Regions from separate parts of the Homo sapiens genome. Here region 2 is linked to region 1. A link means that fine-mapping ties the variant in region 1 to the expression of a gene that starts in the linked region. Tissue or cell type: whole blood. Region 1 holds a variant in brackets; the other region holds the start of a gene. All regions are shown on one strand. Distances are between the middles of the regions.

Evidence for each region. PIP is the estimated chance that this variant, and not a neighbour inherited with it, causes the effect.
Region 2: it holds the start of CASC3, and the variant in region 1 is fine-mapped to the expression of CASC3 in whole blood (TOPMed, PIP above 0.99).

What each region holds. Positions count from the first base shown.
Region 1 is chr17:40,244,170-40,249,368 of GRCh38, forward strand. The region is part of intron 1 of WIPF2 (WAS/WASL interacting protein family member 2); the gene reads left to right. Among named protein-coding and RNA genes, the nearest start is that of WIPF2, 27 kb to the left of the region's middle. The variant C/G (reference allele first, on the strand shown) is at 2,426.
Region 2 is chr17:40,137,895-40,143,023 of GRCh38, forward strand. It overlaps CASC3 (CASC3 exon junction complex subunit), which reads left to right and starts at 2,643. Exons shown (of 14, transcript NM_007359.5): 1 at 2,643-2,885; 2 at 3,313-3,340; 3 at 3,676-3,713. The coding sequence starts at 2,655. RefSeq lists enhancers at 2,254-3,194, 2,660-2,959.

The sequences.
Region 1 (5,199 bases):
AAACACTTTAGTGGAAACCCTCTGTTATAGTCTGTCCTAGAACACATGGAGGCAAGTTTTTCATTCCTCTTGACATTATTCCCTGTGTGATTATAGGAACCTGTTTGGTTCCTGCCGTTGTTGGCTCCTGGAGTGGCATGTGACTACTCTTAGGCAGCTCCTGGCTCTTTTCTCATTTTGGGGTTCTTTGGCCTAGGGACTGGATGCCATTATGCCATTGTAGTAATGAGCTCCTACCTCCCATGCTGGATTGCTTTTCAGGAGCAAAGCTGAAGGACAGCTGAACAGGTGGGCAGATTACCAACAGGTGACTTTTAACCCTGGAAGGCCTTCAGTTAGTACTTAGTCTCTGGATGAGATTAAGCCAGGAGATCAAGTATAGTCTGTGGGATTAATGAGATAACCGATCGAACTTCTGGTTTGAGTGTGAAGCTGTCGGTTCATTTAGGTTTCTTTGGTTTTACAGTGTTGGTGTATTGGACAGAGAAGGGGACTACTTTTGGATTTGGAGGATGGCCTATATATAAAGCCTCAGATTTCATCTCTTCTCACTCTGTTCTAGCTATCCTGGTCTTTTTACTAGTTCTCTAACACACCAACTACATTCCCATGTTAGAATTTTTTCACTTGCTGTTATTTCTTTTCGGAATGCTCTTTCCCCAGATGTTTACATGGCATGCTCTGCTCATGGAGAGACTTCTTGGGAGAGCCAGATACTCTCCCCCAATGGCCCTTTCCCTGTGACTGTATTATTTTATCATTATTATTACTATTTTGTTGTTGTCGTGGTTAAATTCTCCTAGATCCTGAAGCCTGCAACCCTATCCAAAGGAAGACTCTAACCTGGGCAGCTGTAGTCCCAGCTACTGGGGAGGCTGAGGCTGGAGGATTGCTTAAGCCCAGACGTTCAAGACCAGCTTAGGCAACATAGTCTGGACAATCTATCTCTAAAAAATAAATAAGTAAAACAAAAGAACATTCCAGTCTATTCCTATACTCTACCTTTATGATTCTCTGTTTTTTTTACTCCTTTTATCAGTAACTGTTATACTGAGATTTTATTTCTTCCTTCTTACACTAGAATGTAAGCTCCAAGACAGTAGACGCTTGTCTTGCTCATCTTCTAGAACAGGGCTTAGCAACCTCAGCATTGTTGACAATGTAGACCAGATAATTCTTTTTTTTTTTTTTGAGATGGAGTCCCGTTCTGTCGCCCAGGCTGGAGCGCAGTGGCACGATCTCAGCTTACTGCAACCTCCACCTCCCGGGTTCAAGTGATTCTCCTGCCTCAGCCTCCTGAGTAGCTGGGATTACAGGCGCCCGCCACCATGCTTGGCTGACTTTTATATTTTTAGTAGAGACAGGGTTTCACCATGTTGGCCAGGTTGGTCTTGAACTCCTGACCTCAAGTGATCTACCCGCCTCGGCCTCCCAAAGTGTTGGGATTACAGGTGTGAGCCACTGCACCTGTCCTGACCAGATAATTCTTTGTTGTGGGCGGCTGTCTTATGCGTTGGAGGATGTTGAGCAGCATCCTTGTTTTCTATTCACTAGATGCCAGCAGCACTCCCTACCCTAGTTGTGACAAATATGTCAATGACATTGTCAATGACTCTGGGGAACAAAATCCCTCCTGGTTGAGAGCCATTGTTCTAGAAAAATACTTTGGCACTCAGTGGGTGCTTCAATATTTATTAAGTGGTTAAGTTGTGGATACTTAATTGGATGATGGATGCATGAGTGCATTCAGCATATTAAAATTTTTTGGAGCATTGAACAACACGTATAGCCTTGTGTTTCTTTCTTTCCTCTTTTCATAGATATCTCCATTCTTCTGTCTGTTTTCTGTTTCTGGCATGTTGATCCATTCCTTGCTGCATTTTCCTCCACCCAGACTTGCTTGCTCTTTTAGACAATGCTACTCTTTTTTTTTTTTTTTTCCTGAGTCTCACTGTTGCCCAGGCTGGAGTGCAGTGGCGTGATCTCGGCTCACTGCAACACCTTCCTCCCGGGTTCAAGCGATTCTCCTGCCTCAGCCTCCAGAGTAGCTGGGATTACAGGCGCGCACCACCACACCCAGCTAATTTTTGTGTTTTAGTAGAGATGGGGTTTCACCACGTTGGCCAGGCTGGTCTCGAACTCCAGACCTTAAGTGATCTGTCTGCCTCGGCCTCCCAAAGTGCTGGGATTACAGGCGTGAGCCACCGTGCCCTGCCTGTGCTGCTCATTTTTTTTTTTTTTTTTTTGAGACTGATTTTCATTCTTGTTGCCTAGGCTGGAGTGCAATGGCACAGTCTCGGCTCACTGCAACCTCCACCTCCTGGGTTCAACGATTCTCCTGCCTCAAGCCTCCCAAGTAGCCAGGATAACAGGCACCTGACACCACGCCCAACCAATTTTTGTATTTTTAGTAGAGATGGTTTCA[C/G]TATGTTGGCCAGGTTGGTCTTGAACTCCTGACCTCAAATGATCCGCCTGCCTTAGCCTCCCAAAGTGCTGGGATTACAGGTGTGAGCCACTGCGCCTGGCTAGGCCTGTGCTACTCTTATATTTACTTTTGTTCAATTCAGCAAGTGACTGCTGAGCAGCTACGGTATGCTGTAGAATAATGAGAGAGAACCCTAGAAAGATATGGTACTGTCTGTGCTTAAGAACTCATTTGTTGGCCGGGCGTGGCGACTCATGCCTGTAATCCCAGACTTTGGGAGGCCGAGGTGGGCGGATCACGACATCAGTAGTTCGAGTCCAGTCTGGCCAACATAGTGAAACCCCGTCTCTACTAAAAATACAAGAAATTAGCCGGGTGTGGTGGTGTGCGCCTATAATCCCAGCTACTTGGAAGGCTGAGGCAGGAGAATTGCATGAACCTGGGAGGTGGAGGAGGTTGCAGTGAGCCGAGATCGTGCCATTGCACTCCAACCTGGGTGACAGTGCGATACTCCGTCTCAAAACAAACAAACAAAAACACAAAAACAACTCGCTTGTTAAAATGGACATAGGTGTATGAAATGTTCCTCGAAAATTTAATTCTTATTTCAGGGTTTTTTTTTTTTTTTTTTTTTTTTTTTTGAGACAGGATCTTGCTCTGTTGCCCAGGCTAGAGTGCAGTGGCACAATCTCAGCTCACTGCAACCTCCAGCTCCCGGGTTCAAGCGATTCTCCTGCTTCAGCCTCCCAAGGTAGCTAGGATTACAGGTGCGTGCCACCAAGCCTGGCTAATTTTTGTATTTTTAGTAGGGATGGGGTTTCACCATGTTGGCCAGGCTAGTCTCGAACTCCTGACCTCAAGTGATCCACCTGCCTCGGCCTCCCAAAGTGCTGGGATTACGGGCGTGAGCCAACGCGCCTGGCCTTTTTTTTTTTTACTTTTTTTGAGACAGAGTCTTACTCCTTCACCCAGGCTGGAGTGCAGTGGTGCAATCTCAGCTCACTGCAGCCTCCACCTCCTGGGTTCAAGTGATTCTCGTGCCTCAGCCTCCCGAGTAGCTGGAGTTACAGGCGTTTGCCACCATGCCTGGCTAATTTTTGTATTTTTAGTAGAGATGGGGTTTCACCAACTTGACCAGGCTGGTCTCAAACTCCTGACCTCAAGCAGTCCACCCCCCTTGGCCTCTCAAATGCTGGGATTATAGGCTGAGCCAGTGCACCCAGCCTCAGGATAATGTTTAAATTGATACTAATGGGCCACCATAGGGTTAAGTTAGTAATTGTTAAATACTTATCAGAATGGGTGAAATTGCTGTCGAATTTAGAATCCAGTTTTAACAAAACCTACCCATTCAATTTTTACTTATTTTCATTTGTTGCAATTGTCTTTGGTTTCTTGCTGTTAATTCTATTTTTGTCTGAAACCTGGTTGAAAAATATACAAAGTGGACTTGGTCATTTTGAACTTTTTGTTTGATGTGAATGTTCTTGGGGTTGGTTGTTGTATTGAAAGGTTGTGAAAAGCTGATACATCAGTTTTTTTTTTTAATAAAAATTTAAAAGTTATTTCTTTTTTTTTTTTTTTTTTTTTTTTTTTGAGACTCTCTGTTGCCCAGGCTGGAGTGCTGTTGCACAATCTTGGCTCACTGCAACTTCTGCCTCCCAGGTTCAAGTGATTCTCGCACTTCAGCCTCCCAAATAGCTGGGATTATAAGCACCCGCCACCGTGCCTGGCTAATTTTTTTTATAATTTTAGTAGAGATGGGGGTTCCACCATGTTGGCCAGGCTGGTCTCAAACTCCTGACTTCAAGAGATCCGTCCGCCTCGGCCTCCCAAAGTGCTGGGATTATAGGCGTCAGCCACTGTGCCTGGCCTAAAAAATATTTCTTATTAAATAGAGACAAGGTCTCACTTTGTTACCCAGGCTGGTCTCTAAGCACATTCGATCCTTCTGCCTCAGTCTCTCAAAGTGCTGGGATTGCAGGCTTGAGCCATAATGCCCTGCCTGACTCTCTTTCTACCAAACATTTATGTTTCATCTCTGATGCTGTTAGAGAGATTTCATTTGATTTGAACTATGGGATCAGAAGAATTCCATTAGGGAGGAGTGTCTGGAATCTTTTTCTTTTGAAGACACAACTGTCTTCTCCTTAGATTATCTGGGAGATAGAGTAGTCAAAGCTGTTGTGGTTTTTTCAGAGAGGATCCTGAAATTTGTTTTACCTATCTCTGTTTCTTTGTATTGAGAAATGGTTTATTAGGATATTAAGTAATTAAACATATATTGAAGAAATAAAGATGATTTTCTTTTTGATATCTCAGATTCCTATTCATATGACTGATTCTTGTAAGGAAGGACTGGGACCTTAAGATTTTGCTGAGTGAGGGAGGTGGCCTGTTTTTTTAAGGTCAGTTTTTTTCCCTTTTGGGATTTTGTTCAGTGCTTTGATACAAAAACTGTAATTTACTTTGTAGTCAAAACTGAGATCAAAGGAAAGTACTGTTACCTGAGGCATGAAAATAGAAGATAGCATTAAGATTTAGAATTTTTCTTGATTTTCGTGTCTTTTTAAAATAACTTGCAATTGAAACCTGAGTTTTAGAGCAGCAGAATGCCATTTGAATAAAGGCCCCAGATTGTAGTGGTAACTAGGATACCTCTTAGATAATTTTAAGTGTACGAGAAAAGCAAGAACTAAACTGGATTCTTCATTTATCACGTGTAAAGGGTAGTAGTTGGTGTCTTTGTACTAAGGAAGTCTCCTGTTTTTAAA
Region 2 (5,129 bases), 110 kb before region 1:
AAGACCAATCCCTCCTTTCTTCATAGTCCCTAGTTAAAGATTGCTGTGGGCTCCAGGCCCGGCGCGGTGGCTCAGGCCTGTAATCCCAGCACTTTGGGAGGCCAAGGCGGGTGGATCACGAGGTCAGGAGTTCAAGAGCAGCCTGACCAACATGGTGAAACCCCGTCTCTACTAAAAATACAAAAATTAGCTGGGCGTGGTGGTGCGCGCCTGTAATCCCAGCTACACAGGAGGCTGAGGCAGGAGAATCGCTTGAACCTGAAAGGCGGAGGTTGCAGTGAGCCCAGATCGCACCACTCCACTCCAGCCTGGGCGACAGAGCGAGACTCCGTCCCCCTCAAAAAAAAAAAAAAAAACTGGACCCAGACTAAACAACTGAAGGACAAAGTGGCAGACTATCACTTTCCTTATTTAGACACTAAACTTGGCAGCCTTATTTGCACCAATTTAGTCTGTGATCGATAAGATCCTCCAGGTTCTTTTTCTTTAACACTTATTAAATCATATTATCCTCCATTTTGAACTCAGGCAGTTGGCTTTTGGAGCTGGACTTATAAGTTGTCACGTTTGGCCACTTGTCTAATTAGCTGAGATTGTTTGAATTTTCTTTTTTTCTTTTTTTTGAAACAGAATCTCTTTGTCTCCCAGGCTGGAGTGCAGTGGCGCGATCTCGGCTCACTGCAAGCTCCGCCTACCGGGTTCACGCCATTCTGCCTCAGCCTCCCGAATAGCTGGGACTACAGGCGCCTGCCACCACGCCCGTCTATTTTTTTTTATTTTTAGTAGAGACGGGGTTTCACCGTGTTAGCCAGGATGGTCTTGATCTCCTGACCTCGTGATCTGCCCGCCTCGGCCTCCCAAAGTGCTAGGATTACAGGCGTGAGCCACCGCGCCCGGCCTTGAATTTTCCTTTCATCTCTGAAGGCATTCATAATTACTTCCAGTTTCATGTTATCTATAAATTTGATAAACATCAGGATCCTTAACCATGTCATTTATAAAAATTTTACTCAGGAAAGGCCGGGCGCGGTGGCTCACGCCTGTAATCCCAGCACTTTGGGAGGCCAAGAACGGCGGATCACGAGGTCAGGAGATCGAGACCATCCTGGCTAACACGGTGAAACCTCATCTCTACTAAAAACATAAAAAGTTAGTCGGGCCTGGCGGCAGACACCTGTAGTCCCAGCTACTCGGGAGGCTGAGGCAGGAGAATGGCGTGAACCCGGGAGACGGAGCTTTCAGTGGGCCGAGATCACCCCACTGCACCCCAGCCTGGGCGACAGACAGAGTGAGACTCCCTCTCAAAAAAAAAAAAAATATTTTACTCAGGGAAGAATTCTATGCCATGGTGGCCTTTGTTTGATAACATACATTATTAACGTGCACTCCTGTAGGTGCACTAAAAACTTAGCTCATGCACTTTGTATATCCTTATAATGGTCCAAAGAAAACACACTGATTCTTTTCAATGGTGGCCAATGCCTTGCCAAAATGAAATAATTTCCATAAACCTTAAGAAGGAAATAATGTCAGGATTTTGAATCAACATCTGTTTCTACTGACCATTTATTTTTAAATAGGTTCTAAAATCCTGACAAGGGCAGTAGCTCATGCCTGTAGTCCCAGCACTTTGGGAGGCTGAGACGAAAGGATCGCTTGATCCCAGCCAGGAGACAAGCCTGGGCAAGAGCGAGACCCCATCTCTACAAAAAACAGAAAAATTAGCCGGGTGTGGTAGTGTGTGCCCGTTGTCCCAACTACTAAGGAAGCTAAGGCAAGGAGGTCACCTGTGCCTGGGAGGTCAAGGCTGCAGTGAGCCGCGCTACTGCACTCCAGCCTGGGCAACAGAGTGAGACCCTGCCTCGAAAAAGCCAAAACAAAACCGGTAATACTGGCATCATACCAGCCTGCACTTTGGGACAGGTGATGGCTGGGGTGGGAAGAAACGTGAAGAGGAAATGAGAACACAGAGAAAACGCTGCAACAAGAAGTCCTCTGGCTTCACTGCAGACAACTGGTTTCTCCTTCGCCCGTTATCTTAAACAAGGCTGGTGCAGCAAATCTGACGCAGCACTACAGCTTTTAAGATTTACCTTGATTCGTGATTTTACCAAGCAAAGGAATGCAGTAAATTGACCTGCTTCAAACGTAGGTAGAAGTGAGAAATGGAAACAGAAAACCATGAAACAGCCCTAGTGTTGCAGTGAAGCTGTGACAGGTTGACTCCTTCCACTCGGGAAGCCCAAGATGGCCGGGCCAGGAACCCGGGAGGCTGCTGAAGTCTCAATTCCCCTCGCCCTAGGCCTGCCCAAGGGAAGTCAGGAGCCGCGCCACGCCCCCTTACATCACCGATAGACGTAATCCGGGTCGGCCGCAAACGTGCCGCAGGCCTAGGCCCCGCCCAGTGCCCCGCCCCTCCCCCAACACACACACACACACACACACACACACACACCCCAACACACACACACACACCCCAACACACACACACACACACACACACACACACACACACACACACACACACACACACACAGCGGGATGGCCGAGCGCCGCACGCGTAGCACGCCGGGACTAGCTATCCAGCCTCCCAGCAGCCTCTGCGACGGGCGCGGTGCGTAAGTACCTCGCCGGTGGTGGCCGTTCTCCGTAAGATGGCGGACCGGCGGCGGCAGCGCGCTTCGCAAGACACCGAGGACGAGGAATCTGGTGCTTCGGGCTCCGACAGCGGCGGCTCCCCGTTGCGGGGAGGCGGGAGCTGCAGCGGTAGCGCCGGAGGCGGCGGCAGCGGCTCTCTGCCTTCACAGCGCGGAGGCCGAACCGGGGCCCTTCATCTGCGGCGGGTGGAGAGCGGGGGCGCCAAGAGTGCTGAGGAGTCGGAGTGTGTGAGTGCGCGCAGGCGGGGCGGGGTGGGGACCGGGCGGCGAGCCGGCCGGGGGCGGGGTGTAGGTGATGCTAGGTAGTCTGTGAGTTGATAGTAGATACTGGGACTTTTTTTTGTTTTTGAGAGAAAAGGGGAGTTATCCCAATGCGAGTTTGCATCCGGAGTTCCAAGGGAAGAAGAAGGATTGGGGGTTTCTGGGAGGATGGTAGAGCCGCTGGAGATGGAAAGCGGATGTTTTATTCAGAAGTCGGGGCTGGAGGGAAGGAGACCAGACCTGCCTTGGCTACTACTTGATAAAGATTTACCTATCTCTGTCTCCCTCTCCAACCATTTTGTGCTGAATCTTCAGCTTTTCACCCACATTTCTTTATTGGGCTCCCCACCTCTGGAAATCACAGAACTAACCCATGTCTTCTGCTTTCTTTCAGGAGAGTGAAGATGGCATTGAAGGTGATGGTGAGTAGCATCTTTTACCCCATTAGGACAAGAGTTTTTTTTAACATAAACTCAGGTCATCTATTTCCAACATCGACATTCTCACACACTGTCACGGATTTAGGGCCACAGAGTGCCTTTTTGTAACATAGTGGTTAAGAGCATAGGCTTTAGCAGTATAGTCTTCAGCAAGTTACCCTCTGAGCCTGTTTCTCCTTTTGTAAGTGGGGACTATAATTTTATCCACGTTGTAGGTTGATGTCAGAATTAAATGAGACTCTTAGTCTGACCTGTAATAAGCAGCCAAAAAATGTTTCTGGGTTTCTTTTTTTCCACATATTTCTGTTTTATTTCAGCTGTTCTCTCGGATTATGAAAGTGCAGAAGACTCGGAAGTGAGTATGACAGGTTTTTTCCTATGGTATAGATCAGAAATGCTTTTTAAAAACGTGTACACACCTTCGTTGCAAACGTACCATGACCTCCGTGTTTATCCTCTTGTGTATTCTTCATTTATGCTTCTGAAAAAGTGTTACAGAAGGTCTTGTTCACTTTAGACCTAGGGAAAACTTGGGGCACGCCGTCTCAAGCCACAGGTGTTATACTGTTAGTTGGCTTCTCTTCCTGTCTGAAGAATATGAGGTTCTAAATAAGAGAGTGAGGATATCTTGAAGTCCTCTGAAAGATGTTTGACAGTTTGTTTTATGCAGTGTAGGTTGAGAAGCCAGCCAATTGGTTATTTTTTTCCAAATCTATCTGAAGACTTTGAAAGGGTAGGATTCGGAATGTTTTGTGCCAAGAGCATCCATCATTTTATAGGTGGGGATTTTTCTGTTTTTAGGAGAAAGTTTCCTGTCTTTTGGATAAACTACTAGAGATGCCATCAGAGTAAGTGTTTGTTTCCTGGGTTGTTGAGTGGACTCCTGAGTTCTGGTAATGGGATTATATATAGGGGGAATTGGATGGTGGATCAAAGATTTTGTCTATACATTTTTAGAACTGTTACTACATTTTAGAATCTGTTAAGCCCTTGAGGATGGAATAGTGAACACTATAACAAAATTCCTATCTTTAGAGATCTTACAACTCAATAAGGAAGTCAGACAAACATTCAAGCAATTGTACCACTTGCTGATAGGGGATAGCACTGGGATAGGGCTAAGTAGGGTGTTACAGCTGGGTACTGAATCCATCTTAGGCAGTCGGGAAAGATTAAACAGTTGGCTGGGTAAGATGTGTTCTAGGCAGAGAGAACAACAGTCAAGAAAGCCCACAGGGGCCGGGAGCAGTGGCTCACGCCTGTAATCCCAGCACTTTGGAAGGCTGAGGCAGACGGATCACTTGAGGCCAGGAGTTTGAGACCAACGTGGCCAAAATGGTGAAACTCCATCTCTGGCCCGGCGCGGTGGCTCACGCCTATAATCCCAGCACTTTGTGAGGCCCAGGCGGGCGGATCACGAGGTCAGGAGATCGAAACCGTCCTGGCTAACATGGTGAAACCCCGTCCCTACTAAAAATACAAAAAAAAATAATAATAAATTAGCTGGGCGTGGTGGCGGGCGCCTGTAGTCCCAGCTACTCGGGAGGCTGAGGCAGGAAAATGGTGTGAATCCGGGAGGCGGAGCTTGCAGTGAGCTGAGATTGTGCCACTGCACTCCAGCCTGGGTGACAGAGCAAGACTCCGTCTCAAAAAAAAAAACCCATCTCTACTAAAAAATACAAAAATTAGCTTGGTGTGGTGATGCATGCCTGTAATCGCAGCTACTTGGGAGGCTGAGACACGAAAATCGTTTGATCCCAGGAGATGGAGG